Linked DNA regions of Homo sapiens. The protein of the gene in region 2 interacts with the protein of the main gene of each other region in a pairwise test. Each region holds a gene or a part of one and is shown on either strand. Other genes may lie near its edges.

Region 1 (9,796 bases), on a different chromosome or scaffold from region 2:
TCTGTATTCTATGTACCCTACCAGGCCAATAATAGTATTAATAATGTAATCATTGTAATAATAATGATATCATTTATTCAGTGGTTAGTTTGTATCAGGCAATGTGCTAAGTGCTGTACTTTACATACCATATGGCATTTAATTGTCTCAACAATCTTATGCATTAGATAATAATATATTATCCATATCTTATAGATGAGAAGCAGAAGCTAAGAGATTAAACCACTTACCCACAGTCACAAGAGGCAAAAGCCTTTTACTTTGAATAGGTTATATTAGGGGGATGATCAAGGTCTTTTGTTATACCCAAATTATATTTTAATATTTAATATATTTTTAAGATTCCAGATACCCTCTCAGGATTTTGACACATCATATTCCTTTCCCTATCCCACCCAAATTTTAAATCTCTGCTTTAAAATGTAACATAACATAGTCAAAGCGGCTCTGTTGGTAACATGCTAAGATTTTATCAAGCACAAAACTGAGCCAACAGCATATGGTCGCGGTGGTTAGGTAAATCAAGAAACTCCTAATAGTAAGCCAAAATGCCATGCTACCATTTTATCTTGTCATAAGGATCAATCCCGCTCCAGAATGGAGGTTCAGACTAAAGAAGATAGGAAGGAGTGAAAGGAAAATGTCCATATTCTTCAGAGAGATCTCAGATGGGAATGGGCTGCTATGCTAGTTGTATATTCCTGGGACTGGTTCTAAGTAAAGCCCAAGGGGAGAATTCCATGTCCTGTTTCTGATTGGACCTCCCAGTGACCAGGAATTTATCCATCCTGAGGTAGAGTTGGAAGTTTCTCTTGACCAAACTAGTCCAGAGGTCAAAAGGTGTGGCGAGCTCTGCACATTTGCGACTCAATTTCTCTATGACCCTTGGCCTTGTCATCTCCACCAGAGCAACAGAGTAGAATTCAGGGGGGCTCAGGCCTCACTCCCAGACCTCGGACCACATGCTGGCACCCCAAGGCTTTCTCACAACGCCAGAGGCAAGAATGCAGAGAATTCATCATGATAAATTGCACAAGTGTTGCAATTAAAAGTGGTTTTATATTCACAGAAAGAGCCAAAATACCAAATGATACAACTGTAGCCCCTGTATATTGTATACTGATACATCATTGTCTGTGCTGTCTAGCATAATAAATAGCATCATATCTAATAGTTACCAAACGTAGAAAAATATTGTATGGATCTTTTGGCATTGACACTGCTGAACTCTGGTGCCTCTACCTTTTATAGCTAGCTTTGTGTGTGTGGTGCAAAGTCAGGGGGAGGGGTTCACCAATTTACAGCTTTATTATAAAGCTGTAAGTGATGCCAATGCATTTATCCCTCTCTTCTTTTAAATCTTAAAACCTGGGGAATGTGTATTAATGTGAATTATTTTACTTTGCATTTTTAAGCACCAATAATAAACCAAGCTTTCTATGTACACTTTATTTTTCTTAGCATCTGGACAAAATATTTAAACACAGAGAACTGCAGCAGAAGCTGGTGGATGCAAAGCTTGAGCAGGCCCAAGAAATGATGAAGGAAGCGGAGGAGCGACACAAACGAGAAAAGGAATATGTATTTATCATTTTAGTCGTTGTGCATATCTGGTCTACCTCAGTGTCAGAGACACTCTGAGCAAGTTGTTTTGTATTTATTTATTTATTTATTTATTTGAGACAGAGTCTCGTTCTGTCATTCAGGCTGAAATGCAGTGGCGTGATCTCAGCTCACTGCAACCTCAGCCTCCAGGATTCCAGCGATTCTCCTGCCTCCCCAAGTAGCTGGGATTACAGGTGCCCACTACCACAACAGGCTACTTGTTTTGTATTTTTAGTAGAGACAGGGTTTCACCATGTTGGCCAGGCTGGTCTTGAACTCCTGACCTCAGGTGATCCGCCTTCCTCGGCCTCCCAAAGTGCTGGGATTACAGGTGTGAACCATCGCGCCTGGACGCAAGTTGTTTTTATAATGGTCAAAGAGCACTAGACTGATGGAGAAAGAGCCCCAGCTTCTATGGAGAACTAAATTAGCCAGCCCAGTCTGAGGCACTATGTCTACACTACTTTCTACATAAAATAGTCATTCATCTATTCCACACATATTTTTCAAGTGCCTGTTATCTACTAAGCACCGTGTTAGGTGCGGGGACATAGCCGTGAACAAGACAGAGAAGGGGCATCTCCCACTATGGAGATTAGAGTCTAACTGGAAAGAGACAAGCAATAGACAAGCAAACAGGGAAGGGTCATTTCAGACAATAATCACCACTACTAAGGAAGTAAGGAGAAACTGAGAAGGGGCCAAAGAAGGGGACGTACTTTAGATTGAGTGACCAGGAAGGCCTCCTGGAGGGGCGAATGCTTGAGCTAAGCCCTGCCAGATGAGGAGCTGCTACTTGGAGCATCGTCTCCAGCATCTGCAGCAGCAACAAACGCCCTAATGCTGGAACCAATTTGGTGTGCTCCAGAAACAGGAAAAGGTCAGGGAAGCAAGAGCATGGGGGAGAGGTTCAAAATGAAGTTGGAGAGGTAAGCAGGTGCCAAACTGTGTAGCTTTGTAGGGCTTAAAAAGTTATTTGGATTTCATTCTAAATACAATGGGAAAGTACTGGGTGCTTCTGCAAAGGAAGTGATGGCATGATCTGCTCTGCATTTTCTAAGATTAATTTGGCTCCTGGATGGAAAATAGACTGCAGAGGGACAAGAGAGCAAGAAGACAGGAGGCTACTATAGCAATCAGATGAAATATGATGATGACTTGGTTTAGGGATATGGCAGCAGAGAAGAGGGGTGGAGATGGATGAAAGTTGTTTTCAATGTGAAATCAACAGACAGTGCTACAGACCTGAAGCTGGTGACAAAGAGAAAAGGAGAAAGTCAAGGATGACTCCTAAGTTTTGGGCTGAGGAAACTGAGTGGTGGTGTTTATTGATATCTCATTAACCCCAAGCACTCCCCAAAAAGCTGTAGGGTCATTCTACAGATGAGAGAATTGAGGCTCCAAGAAGATACGCAACTTGTTAAGGTTGCACACTGCTGACTGAGCAAGATGTGTTTTGATCTTATGTGCGTCTGTTCCCAAAGCCCACACTCTCTGTGACGGTGCATCACACTCAGACGTGTGTTTCAGAGGTATGAGTTGACGCATGTATCTGTTGCTGGGGTGAGAGAGAGGTAAAACATGGTCCATGGACCACTTATTCAAATTTGGCCATGTCACATTTTGATCTTGAGATTTTCATTTACCTAAAATCAGACCAGAATCAATTCAGTTGATTAGAATAGTAATTTTAAAATAAATTTTCAAACATGGCAACAAAAAGACAAATTTTGAGCAACATAATCTGGTGGACATTGGATAATTTCAAATCAGAAGTCCATGTTCTCTTAAGAAAAAGATTAATTTATGAAATCCATCTACAACCTAGCTCTGAAAGCAAGAAATAAAACATTCAATTATTATTCACAATCCAAGAGAATAGAAATTCCACCATTGGTGTAATTACCTTCTTGGGTAAAATATGCTTCCCATAGTATATTGGTACTTTGCTGTATAACACGAGACATGAAAGAGAAAGAACAAGACAAAGATGCACATGAGAGACATTGGAGAGCAGATTTGAGACGACCCAGCCTTAGCAAGAAACTAGCACCTGTTTTGGTTCAGCAAAACAGATTTGAGTCAAAGAGAGGGAGCTCATCTCACTTCTTCGAAGCTAGCCACCTACCTGGCTTGCAGCTGGGGCACCTCCTTTTGGAAGCGATGAGATATCAAGTCACCCAGGCAGAATAGGCAGCCACCAGCCTCCCTCGAGGTTGGGGGTCACCAATCACAACAAAGCTGCATAGCCAGCTCACAAGAAGCAGGCACAGTGCCACCACTCCCCTCAGATGGCCAGAGGGGACACTGTAGGGCTTCTACTCCACAGCTGCCCCAGTCCTCTCATAGGACCATTTGGTTGCACTTCTATGAGAATCAATCTTCATTGCACCCTGGGAGGCATAGAGGAACAAATGCAACCCATTTTACAAATGGAGAGGCTGGGTCATGGGAAAAAGACAAACTTAGATGAGGAAAAAGAAGCTTTCCAGTTTTTAAAAGTAATGATTTTATTGTTAGTTTTTTTGGTTCTGATTATATAATACATAGACCTCGTGGACTTTTTTTTACAATAGGGATAAACTAAAAGTGGGAAATTTTAATCAGCTTATCTTCAAATACAAGAGAAACTTCTTAATTGATAGCCTCCAGACTGACTAGCCAGATTGATCTCTGCGTTCACTGTTTTCTCTGTAAAACGCACTGACCGATGCCCACAGCATGCTGACTTGCAGGTCTACCCAGCCACTCTCTGGAAGGGCTACAAAATTTGCCCCAGTTTAGTAAGGTGGAGCTTACCAAGAATCAGCTCTTTGCACAAACCTTTTCTTTCCAATTGCACTTGCTTTTGTGTAAATCAACAGGATGTTACATAAACTGATGAAATATAAGTATGAAAACAAAAAACTGTTTGTGCAAATTATGCTTAGTGCTTTGAAAGACCAAATGCAAGCAAATGGCAAAAAACAACTGTCAAACTAGATATGAGTAGCTATAAAAGACTGGGGGGAAGTGGAAAACTCTAGAGAATTATCCAGACAAGCTGCTTCATAAGTATTTTTAGGTTCTAGCACTATCGCTAAACACACACACACACAAGCCTAACAACCTAGAAATCTTACATGGCACACTGTGGATGTGATTTTTAAAAATAATAATAAAAACCAAACAAAAAACCCTCTGAACTCTAATCAGAAGATCCATACCCAAAACAAAGACCACAGCCCTACCTCAAAATTGATAAATAGGCATTCATCTTAAGTTAAAATTACAAGCTTATATATGAATGTGTCATTGTATGCCCAAATCCCCTTTCCAATTTAACCCATCAGCTCTCAGGGGCCAGGATTTAGACCAATAGGTCAAACTTCTAACCCATACTTCTCAAAATGTAATCCACAGGCCACCGATATCCAGACCATTTTGGGTATTTTCTTGAAGCATAGAATTCAGTCACACTCTGTACTTCCTAAATCATATTATCTGAGAGGCATCTGCATTTTTAATATGTTCCGTAGGAGATTCTGATGCATGTTAGAAGCTCTGTGTCAGGAATCAGGGACAAAGACCAAGGACATACATAGTTCTTATTGTATCAAGTGTGCTATGGTGGAGAACAGTGGTCTAGGAGAATGATTCTGGATGTACTCTAAAGAAACAGTTGTTGGCCGGGCACGGCGGCTCACGCCTATGATCCCAGCACTTTGGGAGGCCGAGGCGGGCAGATCACGAGGTCAGGAGTTGGAGGCCAGCCTGGCCAACATGGCAAAACCCCGTCTCTAGTAAAAATACAAAAATTAGCTGGGCATGGTGGCAGGTGTCTGTAATTCCAGTTACTGAGAAGGCTGAGGCAGGAAAATTGCTTGAACCCAGGAGGCGGAGGTTGCAGGGAGCTGAGGTCACACCACTGCATTCCAGCCTGGGCGACAAAAGAGAAACTCCGTCTCAAAGAAAAAAAAGAAAAAAGAAAAGAAACAGTTGCTAACAAAAGTGCACCAAGTGGGGATGTTCTGGAGAGGTTCCAGCAGAGGCTGAATGATTGTTGGCCAAGATTACTAGAGAAGGTTCCAGAATGTGGTGGGAAGTTGAATTTTTTGTGATTCATACTTGAGCTAGAGACTATTTTTTTTATTAAAACCACTAGTTTATAGTTGAGAATCCAACTTTTTTAGACCAATTATTTTCTTAGCTTTCTTTTTCTTTATTTTTTTAGAAATGGAGTCTCACTCTATTGCCCAGGCTAGAGTGCAGCAGTGCCATCATAGCTCATTGCAACCTGGGATTCCTGGGCTCAAGTGATCCTCCTGCCTCAGCCTCTCGAGTTGCTGGGACTGCGGGCATGCACCACCACCCCTGACTAATTTTGGTTTTTTTTTTTTTTCAGTGACAAGGTCTCCCTATATAGCCCAGGCTGTTCTCAAACTCCTGGCTTCCAGCAATCCTCCCAGCTCAGCCACCCAAAGTGCTGGGATTATAGGCATGAGCCACCATGCTGGGCCTGGTTTTTTAAGCTTTCTTAGATTCTTTTCAAAGTTCCAAAAAATTACTTAAGGAGGTTAATGAGCAGGTTGCTAAGTTTTGTAGACAAATTACAGCCAAATAGTAATCTAAAAGGCAAATCTGACCATCTTTCCACACACTCTCTCTTCTCATAGTTGCTGAACCAGGCAGCAGAGTGGAAACTTCAGGCGAAAGTGCTGAAGGAGCAAGAGACAGTCCTGCAGGCTCAGGTGAGGCCAGGTGGACGAGGCATGGGGGTGCTGTCCTCACTGTCCCCAGATAAAAAGGCTGGGGCCAAAGGTGGGCAGCAGAAGTCCTCCTATGTGGCAGGGGATGGGGGGATGGGAATTGGAAATGAAGAACAACTTCACATTTATTCATATTTTCAAGTAAAAATAAAAGCACAATATTATATCTATGAAAAAGAAATGTTCTGCGCCGGCAACATCCAGTCAAAGGTTTGTTGACAGACAATGGATGACAGTACAGTGGTCAAGAGAGTCAGCCAGTGTCCAGGTTCCCATCTAGCACTTCTTATTTCCACCGTACTTCCCCTCTCATTGCCCTGTTAAGGTAAGAAGAAAACGTAAACTGCTCAGATGCACCATCTATGACTGGCGATTCTTAAGATGTCCTCATGTCTTGATATTATTTATCATAAAAAGAAAATGAGGCCGGGCGCAGTGGCTCACACCTGTAACGTCAGCACTTTGGGAGGCCCAGGCGGGCGGATCGCCTGAGGTCAGGAGTTCGAGACCAGCCTGACCAACATGGTGAAACCCCGTCTCTATTAAAAAATATATAAACATTAGCCAGGCGTGGTAGCATGTGCCTGTAATCCCAGCTACCCAGGAGGCTGAGGCAGGAGAGTCACTGGAACTCAGGAGGCGGAGGCTGCAGTGAGCCGAGATCACATCACTGCACTCCAGCCTGGGCGACAGAGTGAGACTCCATCTGTTTAGAAAGAAAAGAAAAGAAAATGAGAAAAATAGTCACCACTCAAGTTTCTATGCCATCAGAGGTTGGCCTTGTCAGTGGTGAATGGATACAAGTGTCAGGCAAGTCAGGAACCATTTTGGTTTGGCTGCGTGACAACTTTTATGTGCTTCTGTTAGACTCTGGGGGTTCCTATTTCAGACTCAAAAAAAGGGGGGACCATTCTGGACATTTATGCCACAGCTGACTCTGGAAGAAAGCCAGACCTACCCATCTTACCCCTACCTGGGGCTCTGCCTGTCCTAAATAATGGTCCCTGTGGGTTCCAGGAGTACCATCCTGCCACAGGCCACAGACTTCCACTGCCCTGGGAAACACCCAAGTGCTAAAGGGACTGTGAGGTCACAGGGAGAAATTCACCGAAGGCAAGGAAATCAGAAACCTTCCAAGCTGGGCAGCATTAATTTAAGATTTGTAAATGTTTATATGCTGACAGCTGAGTACTTGTTCACTGTAAACACACACACACACACACACACACAAATCGTGTTCATTGTAAAAGAAAAAAGCAAATAAGAAATTTAAAATCACAGATTATACTACTGCACAGACAAAAATACAGGGAACATTTTCATATCTAGCCTTCTTAAAGTATATTTCTGCAATGCATATATAGCAAAGCAATAATAAATTATTTTCTCCAGTATGAACTACTCTCTGATAATAAAGAAGAATTGTCTTAATACACTAGATACATAGAAGTTAGAACCATAATGTGTCTGAAGCAAAGGGCCCAGAGTTACAAACTCAAGATCATCCTTTAGGCAGTCACGGAACTCATCACATCATGGTGTAGGGTGGGTGGCTGACTGCTGGCTGTCTAGCAGAAGGAAAGGGGGTGTGACCTCAAGGAATCAAGCCAAGGCCTCTAATTCTATCTGTGCCTCATTCACCACACAGAGCCTTGAGGGGAACAATAAATAATACTTGAAGCTGTGCACTGTTCACATCATCTGCTACATGCAATCTCTACTCCTCCATGCAAAATGAAGACAATCAACTTGAGCAGAGTAGATTACATTGTTAAACTGTGGGCTACAGAGTGATTCACTCAGCTGGCATCAGAATCGAGGCCTTTAATGACCTGTACAATACAAATATTAAAGTTTTGATCTAATTTCCCCCTTATACCCCCTCAAACTTAAAAAACCATCAACCAGGGGTTCTAGATTTGCTATTGTTCCTCATTCATCCCTGAGTCAAGGCACCAGGTCAGAGTCCTGGCTCTTTTACCGAGAAGCTGTGTGACCCTGTGTAACCCACCTAAACCTCTATGGAACTAAATTTCCTTGTCTGCAAAATGAAAATGCTATAATGAATCAATGACCCCAGCCTGGAGTCGTGCAACCCCTGAGAGGCCTATGACTTTTCAGCGTTTCCAAAACATCAGCACATAAGGTAGCAGCTACTATCTAAAATGTAGTTGTTTCTGGTATTACTTCACCTCTTGCTCAGCAACTGTGGATGGAAATTATGCCTATGTTTAAGTTTTTAAAAGGAAAATCAGTTAATGCATATGTAATATATGTAGTTGGTTTTCAAATCATGCATCCAAAGCATTTTGCTCAGTGTCTGGCCCAAAATAAGCATAATTAATTCAACCAATATTTACTGAGCATCTACTAAGTGCTAGGCATGGTTCTAGGTTTGGCGATATAATCATCAATAAGAGAGAGAAAAATCTCTGCTTGACTATTAATTAGTGTATGAACTAGTAGTATTATTTCATAGGTAAGGATTTCATATAAGGAAATATGGAAATATGAGAAGGAAATATGAGACAACAGGAGTTTTTTGTTTGTTTTTGAGACGGTGTCTCACTCTGTTGCCCAGGCTGGAGTGCAGTGGCATGATGTCAGCTCACTGCAAGCTCCACCTCCCGGGGTTCACGCCATTCTCCTGCCTCAGCCTCCCGAGTAGCCGGGACTACAGGCACCTGCCACCACACCCGGCTAATTTTTTGTATTTTTAGTAGAGACAGGGTTTCACCGTGTTAGCCAGGATGGTCTTGATCTCCTGGCCTCGTGATCAGCCCACCTCGGCCTCCCAAAGTGCTGGGATTCCAGGCGTGAGCCACTGCGCCCGGCCCAACAGGAGTCTTAAGTTGCAAAAAAGTTGAAGAACCGCTGGAAAAGATGATCTCAAGATGCTATTCAGCTGTAGTTCATGAGCATAGAGAACTTCCAGAGCTGAAGAAGTGTGGCCCTAAGCTAAGTTGACCCCGCCTTGTCCATTGCCTGCAGTGTTCCACAGTGCAGGCAGCCTCACTAATTGCAAGAACCCTCCTTTGTCTTTCTTTTTTGTCTCCAAGTTACCTTTGAAATTCCAATAATTACTTAAGCCTCAAGAATAAAATAGAGGTCCTGAATCCCTATGCGTAATCATGTTTAAACAAGCTCCTCATTAAAAAGTATCAACATTATATTTCTAAAACTTCTAAACTTTGAAAACAAACTCTATCACAGATTCTTTTGCATAACACTCCAACACTTCCTTTGGTTTTACGCTGCCTTTAAAGGGGTGGGAGTAGCAGGAGGCCAAGGCCAAGGCCCCATTTCTAAGGTCTGGGCAACAGAATTATCAAGGACAGATTGTGTTATTTTCCTAGAGAAGTCACTTTTCAGTCATAAGACAACTGCTGGCCAATTGGGGGCAGGCTTCTCACTTAGGGAAGCGATGTCTGGCTTTCAATTAT
Region 2 (5,695 bases):
TAAAAGCTGTCATAACTCTTACCTTTTATTTCTACCAGTGATCAATCATTTCTCTTTACAAATTTAGGGAGGAAACAACTGTTCAAATGTATAGGGGACAGAAACCTGACATTTAGAGAACAGAAATTTTAATTGCCAAATTAAAGCAGCTAGGCTGCCCCTGGGCTTAACAAAATTCCTATTTTTGAACTAGACCCGAGGTATTTTATCATTATTATTTGATAGGTACCATTAACCTTTGTTTTGTGATTATCGACTTTTGGGGGGAAAGATGAGTAATTAAACACACTCGCCCATTTTCTAAGTGGTTTAGAAGGTTGCAGTCTGCCTCACCATACAAAGCCAGTTTAAATAGGAATATATCACATCATACTTCACATAGCAGTCAACCTCAGAGGAAAGTCATTTATTCAGAAGGCATAGATTTTGCTAGACAGCAGTGATGCATTACAAATATATAATTATTTGCACTAATATTTGAGCAGGTGGAATGGATTAGAACATGGTCAACATCATGCTGCTGATAACATGTATTTTTCTATATTAATATGTACTGTGCAACATGTATTAAAATTGTCAATAATTCATTTTAGCCAAGATACTAATATTTATATTACTGTGTTTAAGAGACAGTATCCAACTGAGCCACTTTTAATTTAAAAGTCTGAAACTGGAATTAAGTTTACTTTCAAAAATCACTTAAATTACTTTATAATCAGTGAAAGGTCAGTAAAATGTAGAATTATAAGTGCCTAGTGACTTAATAGGAGGAAATATGGAGGGTTAAGGAAGGAAGTAGGAACCTGGAATAAGAAAGCTAAGTTTCATTTATAGTTCCAATGAGTGACTTTCTTTGTTTTCACCACTGGGAATCTTAAATGAAGAAAGTGTCGTATCCCTTCCAGTTATCTTTATGTTAATAAACTAAGTGAAGTTTGGATAGAACTAACAAAGGAATTAGTCTCCATTGGTGGACTTCCAGAGTTTTGAGATTAAACTTTGAGAGGTGAGAAGCCTTCCTGATGCCCCTGTAATCTTAAATTGGCAGGTGCCTCTAAGTGAGGCCATCCCTCTTTGCCTGCCTATCATTTTAATCTTTATACTGTAACTGGTTCCTTTCAACTCTGGCCTTTTATTGTAGCACTTTTATCAAGTCTGCAGCTTCCCAGCTACTTGGGAGGCTGAGGTGGGAAGAACACTTGAAGCTAGGAGTTCAAGACCACTCTGGGCAACATAGTGAGTCCCTGTTTTTAGAAAAATAAATAACCTTTAGGTTTTTGCTATAGAAAATATCCAAATAGAGTCTGGACAATGCTGGATGTAAAGAAAACTGTGAAGCTACCTCTAAGCATATTGTTTGTGAATACTGTGTACCATTTAGAGGATAACATGGGGGATTCACATGAAGTTATGTGAAAATATTTTATAAGGAATAATACCTAAGTGCCTCTCTTAAGTTCTCCAGTAGAATGTATTTTCAATTTTTGCCACAAGGGGGAGAAGTTATTTTTATAGTAATATGTACATTTTTTTATTTTAAAAATAGAATTCACACAACTTTACAGCATCTATGAACATTTTGCTATCCCAATTATGTGTGTGTGTGCATGTGTGTAAACAAGATTCTGAAAGTCTTGCATGAGAAAAATTTCAAAGGAAATTAATAACAAAACCAAAACAGTTTTGAAGAACATGTGCACAGTGGACACAGGAATTGAACAAAGTTTACCATGATTAACATTATGTTTTCTTAGTTATATATCACATTGAATTCCTTTATCAACTCTAATAAGAATCTACTGATTAGTGTTCTACATTCTGCTTTTTAAAGAAAAATTTTTGAAACAATCAGACTTAACAGAAGGGTTGTAAATACTGTACAAATAAAATTTTTCCCTTTTGAGAATAAGTCGCTGTCATGATGCTGCACCACCCTCCAATACTTTTGTATTTCCAAGAAGAAAGAATGCTTCAGTATAACTACAATACATGAAAATTGGGAAGTTAACATTGACATATTACTACTATCTAATCCTCAGACACCAATCATTTTACTAGCTGTCCTAATTCCTTTTAAGGATCTCAGTTCAAAATCATGTATTGCTTTAGGTTGTAGTGGCTCTAGTCTCATTCATTCTGACACAGTTCCACAGTCTTTCCTTGACTTTTTTGACTCTGGACATTTTTATAGATTATAGGGTAGTTACTTTGTAAAACACCCCTACATTTGGATTTCTGTTTCCACGTAATTAGATTCTGTTTGTGCTTTTTGGCAGACATACCACGGATGCAACTCTGTGTTATTGTTGCATCCTATCACATAGTACACAATTTCAATTTGCCCCATTTCTGATGATGTTCATTTTTATCACTTTCTTAAGGTACTATTTACCAGGCTTCTCCACTTTAAAACTATTACTTTTCCCTTTGTAAATATTTTGGAGGTAGATATATATTAATAGATACAGACATATATAGGTCCCCCTTATTTATTTATTTGCAGACAGAGTCTCGCTCTGTTGCCCAAGCTGGAGTGCGGTGGCGTGATCTCAGCTCACTGCAACCTCTACCTCCTGGGTTCAAGCGATTCTCCCACCTCAGCCTCCCAAGTAGCTAGGACTACAGGCACATGCCACCATGCCTGGCCAATTTTTCTATTTGTAGTAGAAATGGGGTTTTGCCGTGTTGGTCAGGCTGGTGTCAAACTCCTAGCCTTAAGTGATCTGCCCACCTCAACCTCCCAAAGTCCTGGGATTACAGGTGTGAGCCACCTTAACCAGCCATCCTTTATATATATATATATATATATATATATAATATTAATATATATAAAAATATATGTATATGTGTGGTGTGTGTGTATATATATACATATGTGTGTGTATATACACGTGTGTTTATACACGTGTGTGTACATATACACGCGTGTGTATATATACACACGTGTGTGTGTGTATATATATATACTAATCAGAATTCTCTTGATATCACTATGTATTCATAGTTTTCTGTTCAACTAATTATAATCTGTCATTTTACCAAATCTCAAATTATCCCAAATTTGGTCAGAAGTAGCCTCTTCAGGTTGTCTCCTGTGTCGTTTTGGCATGTTCCCATCATTTTTACAGCAATTTATTCTGGGCACAACAGGATTTTCCAAGGTCATCTTGTACTTGCCTTGCCCCAGCTCTGGAATCAGCCATTCCTCCACCTTTTAGTGAAATTGGCAGTTAGAAATCAAGATTTGTGCATGAGATGTGCTTATTATTATTGAGATGTCTCACCCTACTCTTTCTCAATAGATAATGCTAGGGGGCTTTATGTGTGCATACACACACACACACTCACGCATATTTTAAATATACACCCACACCCATGCGCCCCTCTGCAACATCTTCCTCACCTCACTTGAGCTTCCATACTCCATACTGGGCTTCCCCTCTCTCTGGAGGAGACCATCCTCATCTCACATAGCTCTTGAAGTTTTGGCTTTAGGACCAAATTGAGGGAATAAGAATGGTCATTGCAGAAATCCTGTAAAAATTTTAAAATATTAAATTTAAAAATTACAATTTTATCACGCAGAAACAACTATATTTTTGGTGGAAGTTTTTTTTTTTTTTTTTTAATGTAGTGAGCAAATTAGTAAAGCTGAATTGAGGAGGGGGTAAAGTGTTATGCCCAAGACACAGAACTTACATTTTGAAAGAATTAAATTTGAAATGCATACCGTATGTTTTTCTATTATACAATCTCCTTGCTACTGTAATTGCTATTTAATAAGAGTGCATCAGAGAAACTGTATGAATGGAAACCTGACCATTAAGCACTGAATACCAATAGGATATTTTTACTAATAAAGTTCAAAGGAAAAATGATCATACAATTGTTGTTTTTGTAGGCCATTAAAAATATATATGCTAAGAAGGATAGACTTCATGTGAGAAAGGAGTCTCTGGGCTGGATCTATTATAATAGATGTTACAATAAACTTAATGTGAAATAGGAGTCAAATGGAGGCACAAAGAAGTTAAATAACTTCACCAAAATTATATATCTAAAAAGTAATAGAATTCAAACTTACATCCTTAGGCTTCTATAGCCTATGTTTTAACCACTTTGCTCTGTTACCTCTAAGAAGATTTCATAAAAGAGGTCACATTTCAGCTGAGCTTTAAAAAGGCAAGTAGCATTTCATCAGTGGTGGAGGAGAAGGGGAATTCTAGGCAGAAGTAACTTATACTTGCAGGGTGTGGAGGCATGAGTCACTGGTATATCACTGAATGGAAAAACTGCTGTGTGAGTAGAGCTCAATGTGTGGGGTCCATCAAAAAGGGCAAGTTAAAACGAATATTTGGATTGGGGTTAGCTTATTTAGAGCCTTTAGGCCGGGCGTGGTCGCTCATGCCTATAATCCGAGCACTTTGAGAGGCCAAGGCGGGTGGATCACCTGAGGTCAGGAGTTCGAGACCAGCCTGGCCAACATGGTGAAACCCCGTCTCTACAAAAATACAAATGGCGGGTGCCTGTAATCCCAGCTACTCGGAAGGCTGAGGTGGGAGAATCGCTTGAACCCAGGAGGCGGAGGTTGCAGTGAGCCGAGATTGTGCCATTGCACTCCAGCCTGGGTGACAGAGCAAAACTTAGTCTCAAAAACAAACAAAGTCTTTAAAATGGTATCCCAATTAATTTAGGCTTTATCATAAAACCAGAAAACTATTGAGAATTAAGTAAGTGAATGACATGAACAATTCTGTGTTTTAGAAAAAGATAACTGGTCAGAATGTATGCAGTGGACTAAAGGAGAAGAGAGGGCAGAAACCAGGCTACTGCATTAATCTGGTGAAAGCCTGAACTGGGGGAGTAGCACAGGAATGAAGAGGAGGTGATGGATTCAGGGAATATTTGGAAGATTAAACCAATAGGACTTATTAATTGTTGCTTTATTAGATGTGGGGGGTAAGCAAGAAAAGGAATCAAAGATGATTCCGAGATTCTTAGTTTACATATCTTGGTGAATACCAACACTATGGACTTAAAATATATACCTTAGGAAAAGTAGGTCTAGGAGGAATGCCACTGACTACTGAAAGAACATCTCTTTTGCCAGAACTTGGTTCAGGTCATGCAAAAAATTTAAACTTCATAATCTGCTAGAAGTTGTGGCAGGAGAAAAAAAACTCCATCTATGGCTTTGAAAATAGGAGAATGATTTTTAAATTTTAATGGTATATAATTTGATTTTTATATATAATTGTTTGCATTGTTTTTTACTTAAAGCCAAAAAAAAAAAAAAAAGGAATTAAAAAGCTTTCCAACATTTTAGTGCTCGAATATAATGGGTAGACTCAAATGGAATAACACCGGTTGCCCTTTTTGATGTCAGTCCTTTAGAGAGTGTACACTGGAAGGTCTAAATATGATTTTCTCTGGTTGGATTATTCACATGCTAGGAATGCTTTACATTCTGATTCAAATTCTAAGCCAAAATCTTCCACTTTATCACTTAGGACATCAAGTAGTCTCTTCCAGGAAGATACTGCAGACCTTGAGACCCTGCAGATCTAGAACACAATTATCAGCCATTATATTTTAACTATGATTCCATAGGTTGCATGTTTATCTCAGTAAGGTCAACAAAATGACTCCTTGGCAATATTATGTGGGAAGTGTAATGACACATTATGGATATACC

What was found.
Region 1: the proteins of EXOC5 (region 2) and TXLNB interact in binary tests that used the Homo sapiens proteins (3 or more experiments, as listed by UniProt).

Annotation. Positions count from the first base shown.
Region 1 is NC_000006.12:139,252,103-139,261,898, reverse strand, and holds part of TXLNB (beta-taxilin), read left to right. Parts: intron 1-1,461; coding exon 1,462-1,581; intron 1,582-6,260; coding exon 6,261-6,335; intron 6,336-9,796. UniProt on the Homo sapiens protein: Promotes motor nerve regeneration. May be involved in intracellular vesicle traffic.
Region 2 is NC_000014.9:57,198,690-57,204,384, reverse strand, and holds the end of EXOC5 (exocyst complex component 5), read left to right. Parts: 3' UTR 1-3,878; downstream 3,879-5,695. UniProt on the Homo sapiens protein: Component of the exocyst complex involved in the docking of exocytic vesicles with fusion sites on the plasma membrane.